Regions from separate parts of the Homo sapiens genome. Here all the other regions are reported to be linked to region 1. The links are microRNA targets in miRTarBase. Many come from high-throughput screens and were not tested one by one. Region 1 holds a microRNA gene; each other region holds the end of a gene's coding sequence.

Region 1 (3,132 bases):
GGGATGTGAGGGCCAGGATGCACATGCTTTTTAAATCTCCCTCTGTGCTTGACATACAGTAGATTGAAAGTAAGTGCTGGTAGATACACTGGCCAAGCTGTGCTCTTCTCTGAAGTCAGTATTCCAGGAGTAACTCACCCTGGTCATCTCTGTGCCCTGGGCACACTGGGCACTCCCCACACACAGGTTGAACCTGGCAAATAAGACTCACAGCATCATGCCACGTGCGAGTTAAAGCCACCTGGAGGTCAGGTCAGGTCTTCCTGACAACTGAGTGCTTCAAATAACACAACAGCAGCTAAGTTCCCCACATCACCTTGAGTGTCTGGAGAGCTAGGCCTATGACTTCTCTGTCTCAGGATCCCTCTCAGTGCCCAGAAAACAGTGGACATCAATAAATGTAACACCAATAACATCTTCGTTGAGCGCTATGCTAAGCACATCAGGTATGTTAACTCATTTATTCCCCAGTGTCCATCTCTCAGTGTTTTATACATACGGGAACTGAGGCTCAATTAGCCGAGCGTGGTGTCGTGCTCCTGTAATCCCAGCTATTGGGAGGCACAAGAATCACTCGAACCCAGGAGATGGAGGTTGCAGTGAGCCGAGATTGTGCCACAGCACTGCAACAGAGTAAGACTCCGTCTTAAAAAAACAAAAAAACAGAAAACAAAACAAACAAACACTGAGGCTCAGGGAGGTTAAGTCACCTGCCCAAGTTCATGAGACCAAGGAGCCGGGAAGCAGGAAGGGGAAGGCAGGAGTGTAACTCTGAAACCTCTGCTCTTAGGCACTGGCTTTCAGCTGAACTGATACCTCTGGAAAACAGTCTCAAAAAAGTCCACTTCTCCTCCCAACAATTCAGACCTAAAAACCATTTGGCGGGGAAGGGCAGGGCAAGCTTCTGAGTTGGGGAGGGGGTGTGGGATCCCAAGCTGAGGTGTCTGTTGGCAAGCAGGGTGCAAAGGGCATCTGTGCAGGGAGGGGGCTGCAAGGGAGACAGAGACTGCTCACAGGCAAGGAATGAAATATTAAACATTAATGTTAATATTAATATTTATAATTAATATATTTATGATATATAGCATATATACATATTATATTAATTAATTATAACTATATTAATATAATTAATTATAACTATATTAATATAATCAATTATAACTATATTAATATAATCGATTATAACTATATTAATATAATCGATTATAACTATATTAATATAATCGATTATAACTATATTAATATAATCGATTATATTAATATTAATATAATCAATATTAACAAATATATACTATATAATATAAATAATACCTAAGTTTATATAATATGCATAATGTTAATATTTATTAATATTTCAGGGACAATGGGAGTCATGAATATGGAGAGACAAAACTAGAATGAACCCCAAGGTGCTGCATCAGAATTGAAGGTACCAGTCTGAACTCATAGTTTTCAACCTATTGAAATAAATATAGATGCACGTGTGTGTGTATGCACGTACATACAAATGTTCCCTAATTCTGCCCATTGAGAGGCCTGTGGTTAGCAACACCCCAACAGCAATAAGCAGACCTAGCTTGGCTCCTAAATTTCATTTTCCACTAAAAGGAACCAGAGCCCCTTGGATAAAGGACTGATTCCACAGGTGGGTAGGGAGCATCTGTTGCCAGAAAGCAAGAAAGCACTTAAAGAATGATGTGGACATGTCAAAGGGACACAGAAGCCAGCCTGGATGAGATCCCACTGGCCCTAACTGTCCACAAGGACAATTTGAGCAAGGATGTCAACAATTTAAGAGCAGATTATAAACCACTGAATAAAACAGAAAAATACAAAGAATTGAAACGGACATTGATGGCAGACAGGATATTAACATAATTTTAAAGTATCTCTCCAAGGAATGCTTCTGAATGATGAAGGGGAAAAGAATAACTGTACAGTGGAAAAGCCTGGTAAAACCCACCTTAGTGACCAAAGTGAATGTCACCATAGTGGGACAAAAGGAAATCAAGTGCCACCTTATGGGATTCAACGAGGACGCAGCATCCCTTGGGTGATGTTCCAGCCAAATACACGTGCCCGGTGGAATCACACAAGAACATCAGACACACTCACACTGAGGGACACTCTGCAAACTGACAGTACTGGGCACAAACATGTCCAGGTCATGGTCGACCGCAGTGGCTCATGCCTGTAATCCCAGCATTTTGGGAGGCTGAGGTGGGCGGATCACTTGAGGTCAGGGGTTCGAGACCAGCCTGGCCAACATGGCAACACCCTATTCTCTACTAAAAATACAAAAATTAGCCGAGCGTGGTGGAGCATGCCCGTAATCCCAGCTACTTGGGGCGCTAAGGCACAAGAATCGCTTGAACCCGGGAGGTGGAGGTTGCAGCGAGCTGAGATATCACCGCTGCACTCCAGCTTGGGCGACAGAGTGAGTTTCCAACTCAAAAAATAAAAAAATAAAATAAAATCCAGGCCACAAGAGTCAAAGAAAGACTGAGGAAGGTTCCAGACTGCAGGAGAGCCAAGAGACAGGATAACTAGATGCAATGGGCAGTCCTGAATTGGATCTTTTGTTATGAAGGACAACGCTGGGACATATGGTGACTCTTGAATGGGGTTAGAGGACTAGACGGTGGGAATGCATCAGAGTCAGTGTCCCGCGTGGATGGCTGTGTTGCGGTTCTGTGGGAGAATGCCCTGGTCTGTATTCCAAGGGTAATGGAGTAGCAGGTTGACAAATTACTTTCAAATGGTTCAAAAAAGAAAGTTCTTTTCACTGTACTTGCAATTCTTATGTAAGCTGGAAATTATCTCAAAATTAACGAGAATTTTTTATCGACGTAGTATTTTACATATTTATGGAAAACATGTAAGTATTTGTTACATGCATAAACTGTGTAATGACCAAGTCAGAGTATCTGGGGTATCCATGACCTTGAGTATTAATCATTTGTATGTGTTGGGAGCATTACAAGTTTTCGAGTTACCAATTTTTTTTTTTTTCCTTTGAGACAGGGTCTTACTCTGTCGCCCAGGCTGGAGTGCAGTGGGACGACCACGGCTCACGCAGCACAGCCTCCACCTCCCAGGCTCAAGCGATCCTTCCACCTCAACCACCCA
Region 2 (3,132 bases), not on the chromosome of region 1:
CTTTATCAAACTCCAGGTTAGTAAAGTCAAGACAAATAAAGTCAAGTCTATCTGAGATGGACTGTCAGCCATGCCTGAGAGTCATGGCTGCCTAACTAGTCCTGGATTGCTGGCTTGAGAAGGCATAGCTTTCTGGGGTCATTTTCTCTACATGAATTATTTGAATCTTCTTCCAATTCCTCCCCTTGCCACTCCTTCAACTCTAAACCCCACAGAATCCTGACTTAAGGTAGGAAATAAAATATGAACATAGGTTTAAGGTAAATTTTATTTGGCTTTGTGTAACAGTTGCAAAAAATTGAAATTCTATCAATGCCTGTATCCCTGTAACCCCGAACTGCTACCAACAAACTCTATGTACATGATGTCCTCACATATGGCATTTCTTAGTTTTTCAGGAAAAGGTTTGGTAGAGTCATTTGCAAGTCTTCAAGAGACTGAAGAGATCAAGTCAAAAGAAGCAATGGCAAGTTCAAAGTCCCCTGAAAAGTCTCCTGAGAATCTTGTGTGTTCACAGAATTCTGAGGCTGGATACATAAATGTGGCTTCTCTGAAGGAGACACATGGTATACAAGAACAAGACCAAAAGTCAGAACTATAAAATCACTGGTGCCTAAAGCTATACTGAACAAAAGTGGTAATTTAAAGCCTGGACAAAAGGTGGACCATGACATTGAGAAGAGTTACCACAGATCCCAAATGGATATCACCCAAGAGTCTTCAAAACTGCTGATAAATTCATTAAAGCAGTTGTAAAAATGGATTTCTCAAGTTTGTTTGATATCCTCAGATGCCTTGTATTGACCAAAATATTGACTTTAGTTCAATGATTTATTTAGGTTTCTCTTCAGCAGAGCACATGTAGGGTTAATTCAACATTCTTTCCCATTATCATGGGTATCTTTTCTGATTTATTTTTTAACAGTAAAAACAATACAGTCACATTAAAGCAAATTTTGTTTTTAAAAAAACCCTCCTATGCTGGGCGTGGTGGCTCACGCCTATAATCCCAGCACTTTGGGAGGCTGAGGTGGGTGGATCACGAGGTCAGGAGATCGAGACCATCCTGGCTAACACGGTGAAACCCTGTCTCTACTAAAAATACAAAAAAATTAACCGAGTGTGGTGGCGGGTGCCTGTAGTCCCAGCTACTCAGAAGGCTGAGGCAGGAGAATGGCGTGAACCTGCGATAGCACCACTGCACTCCAGCCTGGGTGACAGAGTGAGACTCCGTCTCAAAAAAAGCAAAAAACAAAAACAAAAACCCTCCTATAATACCATAAGCTTTTTTTTTTTTTTTTGAGACGGAGTCTCTTACTCTGTCACCCAGGCTGAAGTGCAGTGGCATGATCTCCGCTCACTGCAACCTCTGCCTCCCAGGTTCAACCAATTCTCCTGCCTCAGCCTCCCAAGTAGCTGGGATTATAGGTGCCCGCCACCATGCCCAGCTAATTTTTGTATTTTTAGTAGAGACAAGGTTTCACCATGTTGGCCATGCTGGTCTTGAACTCCTGACCTCAGGTGATCCACCCACCTCAGCCTCCCAAAGTGCTGGGATTACACCAATACCACAGTCTTAACACAACTAATTTTATTTTACAGTTATTCCCTTTTGGTCCTAATTCAAGTACATATATTCTAAGTGGTTATTATAATATTGTATATTCATTTTCACAGTTTGATTTTTAATTTACTGTATATACCATGGAAACATTTTCAATCGCCATATGATATTCAATCATGTTGATGTTCTATAATTATTTTTATGGGAAAAGTTTTAAATGTTTAATGAAGAAGATTTAGAGCAATACATTATTTAAAAGTGGATAGGAGGTTGGGCGTGGTGGCTTACACCTGTGATCCCAGCACTTTGGGAGGCCGAGGTGGGCAGATCACCTGAGGTCAGGAGTTCGAGACCAGCTTGGCCAACTTAGGGAAACCCCGTCTCTAACAAAAATACAAAAACAATTAGCCAGGTGTGGTAGTGCGCGCGCCTGTAGTCCCAGCTACTGGGGAGGCTGAGGCAGGAGAATCACTTGAACCCGAGAGGCAGAGGTTGCAGTGAGCCGAGACTGCACCAGTGCACTCCAGCCTGGGTGACAGAGCAAGACTCCATCTCGAAAAAATAAATAAAATAAAATAAAATAAAAGTGGATAGGAAAATACCAAGAGCTTTTCCTGGGGGAGGGGGTATGAGAAGAGAGTTCACATAAACCCCATTACACAGAAACTACCCCTAAATATTTCCAAACAGGAGTACAAAGTAGGTGAACAGTCTCCAGCTCATCTTTAGTGTAGTGGGACTGCTTCTTCAGAAAAGATCAGCAACATTCACATCCATTTCATCTATCAGGGTGGAACAGTACTGCTCAGTATCTCTGAGGATGTGGATGTTCTATAAATTAAACGTTCTCTTGTTTGGCATTTAAGCTGTTTTTACTTTTTTTTTTTTTTTTTTTTTTTTGAGACAGGGTCTCACTTTGTAACCCAGGCTGGAGTGCAGTGGTTTGATTACTGCTCATGCAGCCTCAACCTCCCATGCTTAAGTGATCCTCTCTCCTCAGCCTCTCCCAAGTACAGGCATGTGCTACCATGCCTGGCTCATTTTTGTACTTTTTGTAAAGACGAGGTCTCACTCTCACTCTATTGTTCAAGCTGGTCTCAAATTTCTGGGCTCAAGTGATCCTCCCACCTAAGCCTCCTAGGTGATAGGATTATAGGATGAGCCTCTATGCCAGGCCTGGTTTTACTTTGTTACTATTTAAGATTATGCTGTGTTGAAGGTCTTTGTGCATGTAGTTCTTTTCTTCTTTTGAATTACTCCAGAAAACAAATTCGCAAGATTGGACTGAGTCAAAGGATATAAATGTTAATATTGCTCTAGGACATCACTTCCTTTGCTTTAAAAAAGGGTTCTGCCTGACCAGGTGCGGTGGCTCACGCCTATAATCCCAGCATTTTGGGAGGCCGAGGCAGGTGGATCACTTGAGGCCAGGAGTTCAAGACCAGCCAGGCCAACATGGCAAAGCCCTGTCTCTACTAAAAATACAAAAATTAGCCGGGTATGGTGGTGCACACCTGTAGTCCCTGCTATGCGGGAGGCTGAGGCTCGAGAATCACCTGAACCCAAGA
Region 3 (3,127 bases), not on the chromosome of region 1:
ACTTCAGCCTGGGTGACAGAGCGCGACTCTGTCTCAAACAAACAAACAAAAAGACACCAATCATATTGGATTGCCACCCTAATGACCTCTTTTAATTACCTCTTTAAAGAACTTATCTCTAAATACAGCCACATTCTGTGGTACAAGGGGTTAAGACTTCAACATATGAATTTGGAGGACACAATTCAGCCAATAACATACATAATTCTTTTGTTTTACAGGTCAGTTTGCTGAGAACGAAACCAATGAGGTCAATTTTAGAGAGATACCTTCACATGTGCTATCGAAAGTATGCATGTATTTTACGTACAAGGTTCGCTACACTAACAGCTCCACCGAGATTCCTGAATTCCCAATTGCACCTGAAATTGCACTGGAACTGCTGATGGCTGCGAACTTCTTAGATTGTTAAATAAAATAAATTATAATAAACTGTTAACTCTTTTCAGTATTTAATACCTGTAGTTCAGTTAGTAACTTTTTCATATATAGCATGTTGCCTGTATGCAGTTGAACTATATAAAGTTCATTGCAAAGCAGATTATCTTGTTTTTTTGCATAGCAATCAAAGTTGAAATTTGTTTGCTACATCAACAAATTAAGGACATTTTCACAAACTGAGAAATAAACAAATATGCCAATTCGTAGGTGGTTTTGCCTTATCCTTTGAATGTGACTTAAAATCAGCAATGATGATATAGTAAATACTGAAATTTAGGTGTAAATCAATACGTTCTACAGGGAAATAATGAGGCTAAGTATTTTTATGTTTTTAGTGGTTTTTTAGAAACCTAATCTTATAGCCGCCATTAGCATTACTAGAGTTATGCAAATAATTGCATTATAAACATGTTTATAACTTAGCCAAAACATTGATTTTTATAACTCTCCAAGTATGAGTTGAAATTTCTTATGTCTTTTGATAAACTGCAGTATTCTTTAAGTGTACTTTGTCCTTTTGTTTATTGCTACAATTTAAGAACTTTATTTAAAAACAATTTTGGAAGGTTACTAGGTACAGCTTTTGCAGAAGAAACTGAACTGTAGCCAGATGGTCAGCAAGTAAACTACATGACTTAGAGTTCTTGTGCATTATACATTTTGGGTAATTCAAAGTACTGTATTTGCATTGACTATAAAGCGTCGTTTGCAATATTTATTCTTCCTTCATAGTCCCTTGTTGTGATTATACTTCCAGTTGTTTAAATGTATTTTAAAAGACTCACTATTAACTTTATTCAGATCTTAAAAGCTACACCTTTTTGAACTATTCCAGTCTTTCTCCATCCAATTAGAATGTTATGGAATAACATGTGAAGAGATACAGTGAAAATCATATTATAATGCATTGAAGATATCCTACATGAATTATCTTCTATTAAAATATGTCCCAATAAATATACCCATAATCAGTGGGTCTTCTACTGAAATCAAGCTCATTCAGCTTTTCTATTAAGCAGCCAAAAAATTTTTTGAAAAAATATGACAGCATCATTCCTTATGCATGGGGAAAGAAGCACTGGAGATGGGTTTAGTATTGTCTTTATCTCAGAGGTGGAACAAAGTTGTCATTATAGGGTCTATAAACTTAAGTCTCCAGCTTATTTGAGACTGGCTTAATATGGCTGAGCCCGGTGGCTCATGCCTGTAATCCCAGCACTTTCAGAGGACGAGGCGGGTAGATCACTTGAGGCCAGGAGTTTGAGACCAGCCTGGCCACCATGGCAAAACCCCATCTCTACCAAAAATGCAAAAATTAGCTAGGCCATGGTGGCACACGCCTGTAATCCCAGCTACTTGTGAGGCTGAGGCATGAGAATCGCTTGAACCTGGGAGGTGGAGGTGGCAGTGAGCCGAGATCGCACCACTGCACTCCAGCCTGGGTGACAGAGCGAGACTGTCTCAAAAAAAAAAAAAAAAAAAAAAAAGACTGGCCTAATATGGACCAGCTTTTCTGGAAACTGCAAAAACCATACACAAAAGTAATTTTTCCTCTTATACCTAAACATTATACATTCCAGCTTATTGAAAGAAGTTAAATATAAATTATATATTTTTAGTAACTTTTTTTTAAGCTGCTCCTTGCAGAGCAGGGCTAACTTCCAGGCAGCGCGCCCAGAGCCGCCTTAGTAACTTCTTAAGCTATACTGGTACATATTTTAATATAGAAGATTATTTATCAAGTACAAGAATTATATTCTGCCATGTGGTGACAAATGATGCCAAGTATAAACCTAAATAGTGATTTCAAAAGTCAAGGTCAGACATGGTGGCTCATGCCTATAATCCCAGCACTTTGGGAGGCTGAGGCGGGTGGATCACTTGAGGTTAGGAGTTCCAGAGCAGCCTGGCCAACGTGGTGAAACCTCATCTCTACTAAAAATAGAAAAATTAGCCGCCTGTGGTGGCACGCATCTGTGATCCCAGCTACTCGGGAGGCTGAGGCAGGAGAATTGCTTGAACCTGGGAGGCAGAGGTTGCAGTGAGCCAAGATCGTGCCACTGCACTCCAGCGTGGGCAACAAGAACAAAACTCAGTCTCAAACAAAGAAAAATAGAAATAAAGTTTAACTTTGACCAGTTTTCATAGGTTATTTTATGTATTGGAATCAGAAGTAACCTTAAGTTTAAGACATTAAAACTGAATCAAAGACTAAGCAAGCCTGTTTATCTTGAAGCACATGGTACTTGCATGTTAATAAAGGCTGAGGTATGATGAACACTTGGTGTTTGATTTTTTTTAGCCTTAATTTTCTTTTGCCTTAATTTTCTGTTTTTTTTTCTGTATTTTAGCCATTTTTTTTTTAGCCTTAATTTTCTGAGGATTCGTTAAACTTTGCCTCAGGACATTTCTGCCATGTGTTTGAATATCAGAAATTTTTACTTGGTTAAATTTAAGATATAACACTGAGATCTTAACAGTTTTCTGACACTTGGTAATTTACTTTTCAAATTATGTGCAGATTCTATATTATTTTTTCTGCATAAAAAACATTACCACAAAATTCTTTGTATTATTCAGTTACTTCATTTTTACACTAGGTTATGCTTTTTAAATTGCTTATCTTTCATGCAGTTATTATCAAGATAATCTTCCTTTTTTAATTTAATTTTTTTCATTTTGTTTT
Region 4 (3,132 bases), not on the chromosome of region 1:
AGTGCGGCCCAAAGCTGGAATTCTCAGAACACCCCCATTTTTGCCATGAGCAGATCTGGATTCTAGTTCGTTTTGACCTTGAGAAAGTCAAATTGTGTTGATCTTTTTAAAAACAAAGGGGCGGTTTTCAGAAATCTATAAGCTTCCTTCTGGCTGTAAGAACTTAGCACTCTGGGCTCCCTGCTTCCTTTAAAACTCACTGGGAGATCTGGGAAAGGGAGGCTGAGACCTCTCTCCTAAGGGCTGATTTTACCTTCCTGTCCCTCATGAAAGAACGGGCTGGAGGACAGGAATAGGACCTGGGCCAGCCACTCTCCAAGGACACAAGCTGGATCCAGACAGGAAGCAGCGGCAAGTAGATTGCTTCTCCCCAGATAGGTTTGTTTCACAATATATTTAATACAAAATGGCAGCAGCCACTGTGCAGTTATAACAAAATTAGCCATAGGGTATCTGGAGAAATGTACACAGGCAGCCTCAGCTGGAGTCATGCGAGCCAACTCCGGCCTGCTCGGGTAGGGCCTGTGCCTGCTGCCCAGTCAGCTGTGGGTGGTCACACGGCCAGGACTGGATGGTGCCCGTGGCAGGGCGGTGCACAAGGGCTCAGAGGTGCTGTACAGGAGGAGCCAGTCTTCCAACAGTACACAAAAGCACGCTGTCCTCTGCTCTGCCCCCCCTGCGGACTCAGCAGCATGTGTGTTCATTTATTTTATTATTATTTTTTGAGACAGAGTCTCACTCTGTTGCCCAGGCTGGAGTGCAATGGCGCGATCTCAGCTCCTGCAACCTCTGCCTCCTGCGTTCAAGCGATTCTCCTGCCTCAGTCTTCTGTGTAACTGGGATTACAGGCGCGTGCCACCAGGCCTGGCTAATTTTTGTATTTTTAGTAGAGACGAGGTTTCACCATGTTGGTCGTCAGGCTGGTCTCGAACTCCTGACCTTGTGATCTGCCCGCCTCGGCCTCCCAAAGTGCTGGGATTACAGACGTTGAGCCACCATGCCTGGCCTATTATTTTTTGAGACAGAGTCTCGCTCTGTCGTCCAAGCTGGAGTGCAGTGGTGTGATCTTGGCTCACTGCAAACTCTGCCTCCCGGGTTCAAGCAATTCTCTGCCTCAGCCTCCTGAGTAGCTGGGATTACAGGAGCCTGCCACCACACCTGGCTAATTTTTGTATTTTTAGTAGAGACGAGGTTTTACCATCTTGGCCAGGCTGGTCTTGAACTCCTGACCTCGTGATCCACCTGCCTCGGCCTCCCAAAGTGTTGGGATTACAGGCATGAGTCACTGTGCCCAGCCTATTTTTCTTTCCTTTTTTGAGACAGAGTCTCACTCTATGGCCCAGGCTGGACTGCAGCGGTGTCATATTGGCTCATTGCAACCTCCACCTCCCGGGTTCAAGTGATTCTCCTGCCTCAGCCTCCTGAGTAGCTGGGATTACAGACGTGCACCACCACCCCTGGCTAATTTTTGTATTTTTAGTAGAGATGGGGTTTCACCACGTTGGACAGGCTGGTCTTGAACTCCTGACTGCAAGTGATCCACCTGCCTTGGCCTCCCAAAGTGCTGGGATTACAGGCACACACCACCTTGCCTGGCCAAGCAAGCATATGTGTTCATAAGCTGCTAGGAGCTGATACCTCTAGAAACTGGAAGAAACAAGGGCCAGGGTTTTTTTGTTTTGTTTTGTTTTTTGAAGAGTTTTGCTCTTGTCGCCCAGGCTGGAGTGCAATGGCACAAGCTCGGCTCACTGCAACGTCCGCCTCCTGGGTTCAAGTAATTCTCCTGCCTCAGCCTCCTGAAGTAGCTGGGATTACAGGTGCCCACCACCATGCCCAACTAATTTTTTTCTATTTTTAGTTGAGGCGAGGTTTCCACATGTTGGCCAGGCTGGTCTTGAACTCCTGACCTCAGGTGATCCACCCATCTCAGCCTCCTGAAGTGCTGGGATTACAAGCATGAGCCACCACGCCTGGCTAGGCTAGGTTTATTATTTTTTTCCCCCAGAAAAGAGACTGAAAGTTGAATTTGCCTTATCCAAAATGCTTGGAACCACAAGTGTTTCAGATTTCAGGATTAGGGATACTTAACCTGTACCAAGTTCCAATTCATGGAGAGGGGCCATGATTCTGCTGTGCTTGAGCAGAGAGATCTCCTTGCCAGAGCCTCACCCAAGAGAAAGAGGTGGGTACCTGCATGCCCCCAGGTGCCTACCCTGGGAGGTGGGCACCTGCATGCCCCCAGGTGCCTACCCTGGGAGGTGGGCTCAGAAGTTAGAGAGCAAGGGCACAGAGTCACCAAAACCTGTCCCAACAATCCCCAGACAATATGCTTCCTGCTGAGTCCATTTTAAATCACACAACACTAGCCGTGGCACAGGCCCGGCTGCGAGGCCCATGATGCTTGGGAGCTGTTGTGGAGAACTCAACCTCATCCAGAGGCCAGAGGGCTGACAAGAGCAGCTGGGCAGGAGGGCCTGCTGTGGGCAGGGTGGGAAAGCCGCCACATCTCTACTTCCCAAGAAAGGCCACTAGGTGCAGGAAAAGGGGGCGAAGGGTCTCAGGACTAGTGAAAGTCTGCATTGAAGGCTCTGCCGATGACCAGCCGCCTCACCTCGCTGGTCCCAGCCCCTATCTCATACAGCTTGGCATCTCGAAGAAAGCGGCCCATGGGAAAGTCATTGATGTAGCCATTGCCACCTGCAACCAGGGTTTGGGCAGAGAAGAAAGGAAGTGATTGACAAAACAAAGAAAGCAAACAGAATGCCAAGTATATAGAAACAGGCCACAGGAGGAGAGGGTGATTAAAGAAAAGCAGCAAAAGGTAGCAAGAGGGAGGGGTGTGGGGAATACACTAGTCCTTCCTTATCCTTGGAGGATACATTCCAAGACCCCAGTGGATGCCTGAAACCGTAGATAGTACCGAACCCCATATATATGTTGTTTTTTTCCCTATACATACATACTTATGAGAAAGTTTAATTTATGAGCTAGGCATAGTAACAGATCAACAATAATAACAAATACTAAAATAGAACTATTATGACATGCCAGCATCACTACTCTTGCAATCTGGGGCCACTGAGCAAAATAAGAGTTACTTGAACACAGGCACTCTGATATCAGGACAGCTGA
Region 5 (3,132 bases), not on the chromosome of region 1:
TGGCCAGGCAGGGGGGCCGACCCCCCCCCACCTCCCTCCCGGACAGGGCGGCTGGCCGGGCGGGGGGCTGACCCCCCACCTCCCTCCCGGACAGGGCGGCTGGCCGGGCGGGGGGCTGACCCCCCCACCTCCCTCCCGGACAGGGCGGCTGGCCGGGCGGGGGGCTGACCCCCCACCTCCCTCCCGGACAGGGCGGCTGGCCGGGCAGAGGGGCTCCTCACTTCCCAGTAGGGGCGGCTGGGCAGAGGCGCCCCTCACCTCCCAGACGGGGCGGCTGGCCGGGCGGAGGGCTGACCCCCCACACCTCCCTCCCGGACGGGGCGGCTGGCCAGGCGGGGGGCTGACCCCCCTACCTCCCTCCCGGACGGGGCGGCTGGCCGGGTGGGGGGGCTGACCCCCCCATCTCCCTCGCGGACGGGGTGGCTGGCCGGGCTGAGGGGCTCCTCACTTCCCAGTAGGGGCGGCCGGGCAGAGGCGCCCCTCACCTCCCGGACGGGGCGGCTGGCCGGGCGGGGGGCTGACCCCCCCACCTCCCTCCCGGACGGCACGGCTGGCCAGGCGGGGGGCTGACCCCCCCACCTCCCTCCCGGATGGCACGGCTGGCCGGGCGGGGGGGCTGACCCCCCACCTCCCTCCCGGATGGGGCGGCTGGCCGGGCGGGGGGCTGACCCCCCCCCCACCTCCCTCCCGGATGGGGTGGCTGCCCGGCGGAGACGCTCCTCACTTCCCAGATGGGGTGGCTGCCGGGCGGAGAGGCTCCTCACTTCTCAGACGGGGTGGTTGCCAGGCAGAGGGTCTCCTCACTTCTCAGACGGGGCGGCCGTGCAGAGACGCTCCTCACCTCCCAGACGGGGTCTCGGCCGGGCAGAGGCGCTCCTCACATCCCAGATGGGGCGGCGGGGCAGAGGCGCTCCCCACATCTCAGACGATGGGCGGCCGGGCAGAGACGCTCCTCACTTCCTAGATGTGATGGCGGCTGGGAAGAGGCGCTCCTCACTTCCTAGATGGGATGGCGGCCGGGCGGAGACGCTCCTCACTTTCCAGACTGGGCAGCCAGGCAGAGGGGCTCCTCACATCCCAGACGATGGGCGGCCAGGCAGAGACGCTCCTCACTTCCCAGACGGGGTGGCAGCCGGGCAGAGGCTGCAATCTCGGCACTTTGGGAGGCCAAGGCAGGCGGCTGCTCCTTGCCCTCGGGCCCCGCGGGGCCCGTCCGCTCCTCCAGCCGCTGCCTCCCGGGCGGCGCTCGCCGGCGCGGCGGCAAAGACTGAGACAGCTCCGCTGCCCGCTGAACTCCATCCTCCCGGCGGTCGGGCGGCGGCGGCTGCGGTCGGTCGCGGCAGCGGCTCCGCTTCATATCTGCAGCTGGGGCCCGCGGGCGTCAGCGCCGCGACTGTCCCAGTCCGCACTGCCCCGGGCCGCAGCGCAGCCGCGCCAACCACCACCCGCGGCCACCATGGCCAGACGGGCTCCCTAAGCCACCGACCCCAGCCCGCGGTGCCTTCGAGCCTTCTGGGGCCTCCGGCGCCGCGACCTCCTCTGCGCTCCTCACGGAAGACTTTTTTTTTTTTTTTTTTTTAAGACGGAGTCCCGCTCTGTTGCCCAGGCTGGAGTACAGCGGTGCGCGATCTTGGCTCATTGCAACCTCCACCTCCCAGGTTCAAGTGATTCTCCTGCTTCAACCTCCTGAGTAGCTGAGATTACAGGCATCCGCCACTATGCCCGGCTAATTTTTGTATTTTTAGTAGAGACAGGGTTTCACCATGTTGGCCAGGCTGGTCTAGAACTCCTGACCTCGTGATCCGCCCACCTCGGCCTCCCAAAGTGCTGGGATTACAGGCATGAACCACTGCGCCTGGCCTAATTTTTTGTATTTTTAGTAGAGACAGGGTTTTACCATGTTGGTCAGGTTGGTCTCAAACTCCTGACCTCAGGTGATCCTCCCGCCTCAGTCTCCCAAAGTGCTGGGATTACAGGTGTAAGCCACTGCACTCAGCTTGTTTTAAAGAGTTTTGATTTTAGTGTGAGAGGAGCCACTGGAGGGCATGATCAGAGTTTGACTCCCAAAGACCATTCCAGCACCAATTCAGGGCATGGGTCTCAAGATCTCCCTTGGAGTGACAAAGGCAGGGCAGGCAAGCCAGTGCACGCAGAGACAGAGTTTGTCCCTCTTTAGGAGGCTGAACAGGTATAAGGGTGGCAGGAGAGGGAGGTGGTGGGCCACTAGAATCACTGGTTCTTGGCATGGGACCTGGATGGATAGAGGGGCCATCCACTTAAACACAGGAGGAGAAGGGAGGTGAAGGCCGAGTCTGGGAACAGGCCGAGTCTGCAGCCCTTCCTGCTGGAGAGAGGGTCTGAAGCTCAGGTCCGGCTAGAGGTCAGCAGGTGTCTCAAGAAGCCCATGGAGGAGTGAGGTGGACCAGGACAGCACGTGGAGTACAGAAAAGAGGGGCAGGCAACCAGGCGCAGTGGCTCATGCCTGTAATCCCAACACTTTGGGAGGCCAAGGCGGGTGGATCACCTGAGGTCAGTGTGAGACCAGCCTGGCCAACATGGTGAGACCCTGTCTCTACTAAAAATACAAAATCAGCCAGGTGTGGTGACTCATGCCTGTAGTCCCAGCTACTCGGAAGTTTGGGGCACAAGAATCGCTTGAACCTAGGTGGTAGAAGTTGCAGTGAGCCGAGATAGCGCCACTGCACTCCAGCCTGGGCAACAGAGTGAGACTAGGTCTCAAAAAGAAAAGAAAAGAGGGCCAGGAACTGGTCCTCCGCAGTTGGAGGCGGGGACAGGTGGGAGGGGCAGAACACACCATGGGACAGCCTGACATGGGGTTCACTGGATGCACCCCTCCACACGCAGCAGCAGGTAGTCCCTGAGGAGCGGGGGCAGTGGCAGCCGGGTGGCACCCTGCCGGCAGCGGCTTCCCAACCGAGCGCGCACAGCTAGTCGGGCCAGGTGCTGCAGCTGCCTTGGCTGGTTCACCATGCACAGGGCCGAGCTGTAGAAGGCTTCGTGCTCCTAGGCCAGGAGTGAAAGAAGGTCAGATGACCCTTGCCCTACCATCTGGGGGCAACCCAGCGGTGGGGGTCCTGGGATTTTGCAGCATGCACCCACCTGGGTGTTTCA

What was found. Region 1 holds the annotated microRNA hsa-miR-619-5p (GCUGGGAUUACAGGCAUGAGCC, at 2,186-2,207, opposite strand). A microRNA usually pairs through its seed, bases 2 to 8, with sites in the 3' UTR of a target mRNA and lowers its output. Matches are read on the target gene's strand: a 7mer-m8 pairs with bases 2 to 8, a 7mer-A1 pairs with bases 2 to 7 and ends in A, and an 8mer does both.
Region 2: miRTarBase lists CCDC30 as a target of hsa-miR-619-5p. Seed matches in the 3' UTR shown: 7mer-m8 at 1,007-1,013, 7mer-m8 at 1,860-1,866 and 7mer-m8 at 2,949-2,955.
Region 3: the mRNA of ELOC is a reported target of hsa-miR-619-5p. Seed matches in the 3' UTR shown: 7mer-m8 at 1,651-1,657 and 7mer-m8 at 1,787-1,793.
Region 4: miRTarBase lists IVD as a target of hsa-miR-619-5p. Seed matches in the 3' UTR shown: 7mer-m8 at 1,943-1,949, 7mer-m8 at 1,806-1,812, 7mer-m8 at 1,565-1,571, 7mer-m8 at 1,430-1,436, 7mer-m8 at 1,131-1,137, 7mer-m8 at 973-979 and 2 more.
Region 5: miRTarBase lists ASB16 as a target of hsa-miR-619-5p. Seed matches in the 3' UTR shown: 7mer-A1 at 2,312-2,318.

Annotation. Positions count from the first base shown.
Region 1 is chr12:108,834,777-108,837,908 of GRCh38, forward strand. MIR619 (microRNA 619) reads right to left here and starts at 2,230; the gene lies at 2,132-2,230. The region is part of intron 2 of SSH1 (slingshot protein phosphatase 1); the gene reads right to left. RefSeq lists an enhancer at 3,086-3,132.
Region 2 is chr1:42,653,428-42,656,559 of GRCh38, forward strand. It overlaps CCDC30 (coiled-coil domain containing 30), which reads left to right. Exons shown (of 21, transcript NM_001395517.1): 20 at 1-16; 21 at 391-3,132. The coding sequence ends at 601. All of the region lies in intron 1 of LOC124904162 (a long non-coding RNA gene), which reads right to left. Among named protein-coding and RNA genes, the nearest start is that of PPIH, 3.4 kb to the right of the region's middle.
Region 3 is chr8:73,943,915-73,947,041 of GRCh38, reverse strand. It overlaps ELOC (elongin C), which reads left to right. Exons shown (of 4, transcript NM_005648.4): 4 at 222-1,923. The coding sequence ends at 412. Among named protein-coding and RNA genes, the nearest start is that of ELOC, 27 kb to the left of the region's middle.
Region 4 is chr15:40,417,695-40,420,826 of GRCh38, reverse strand. It overlaps IVD (isovaleryl-CoA dehydrogenase), which reads right to left. Exons shown (of 12, transcript NM_002225.5): 12 at 1-2,697. The coding sequence ends at 2,564. Among named protein-coding and RNA genes, the nearest start is that of IVD, 13 kb to the right of the region's middle.
Region 5 is chr17:44,178,097-44,181,228 of GRCh38, reverse strand. ASB16 (ankyrin repeat and SOCS box containing 16) reads right to left here. Exons shown (of 5, transcript NM_080863.5): 5 at 2,145-3,024. The coding sequence ends at 2,839. The region is part of intron 2 of ASB16-AS1 (ASB16 antisense RNA 1); the gene reads left to right. Among named protein-coding and RNA genes, the nearest start is that of ASB16-AS1, 7.1 kb to the left of the region's middle.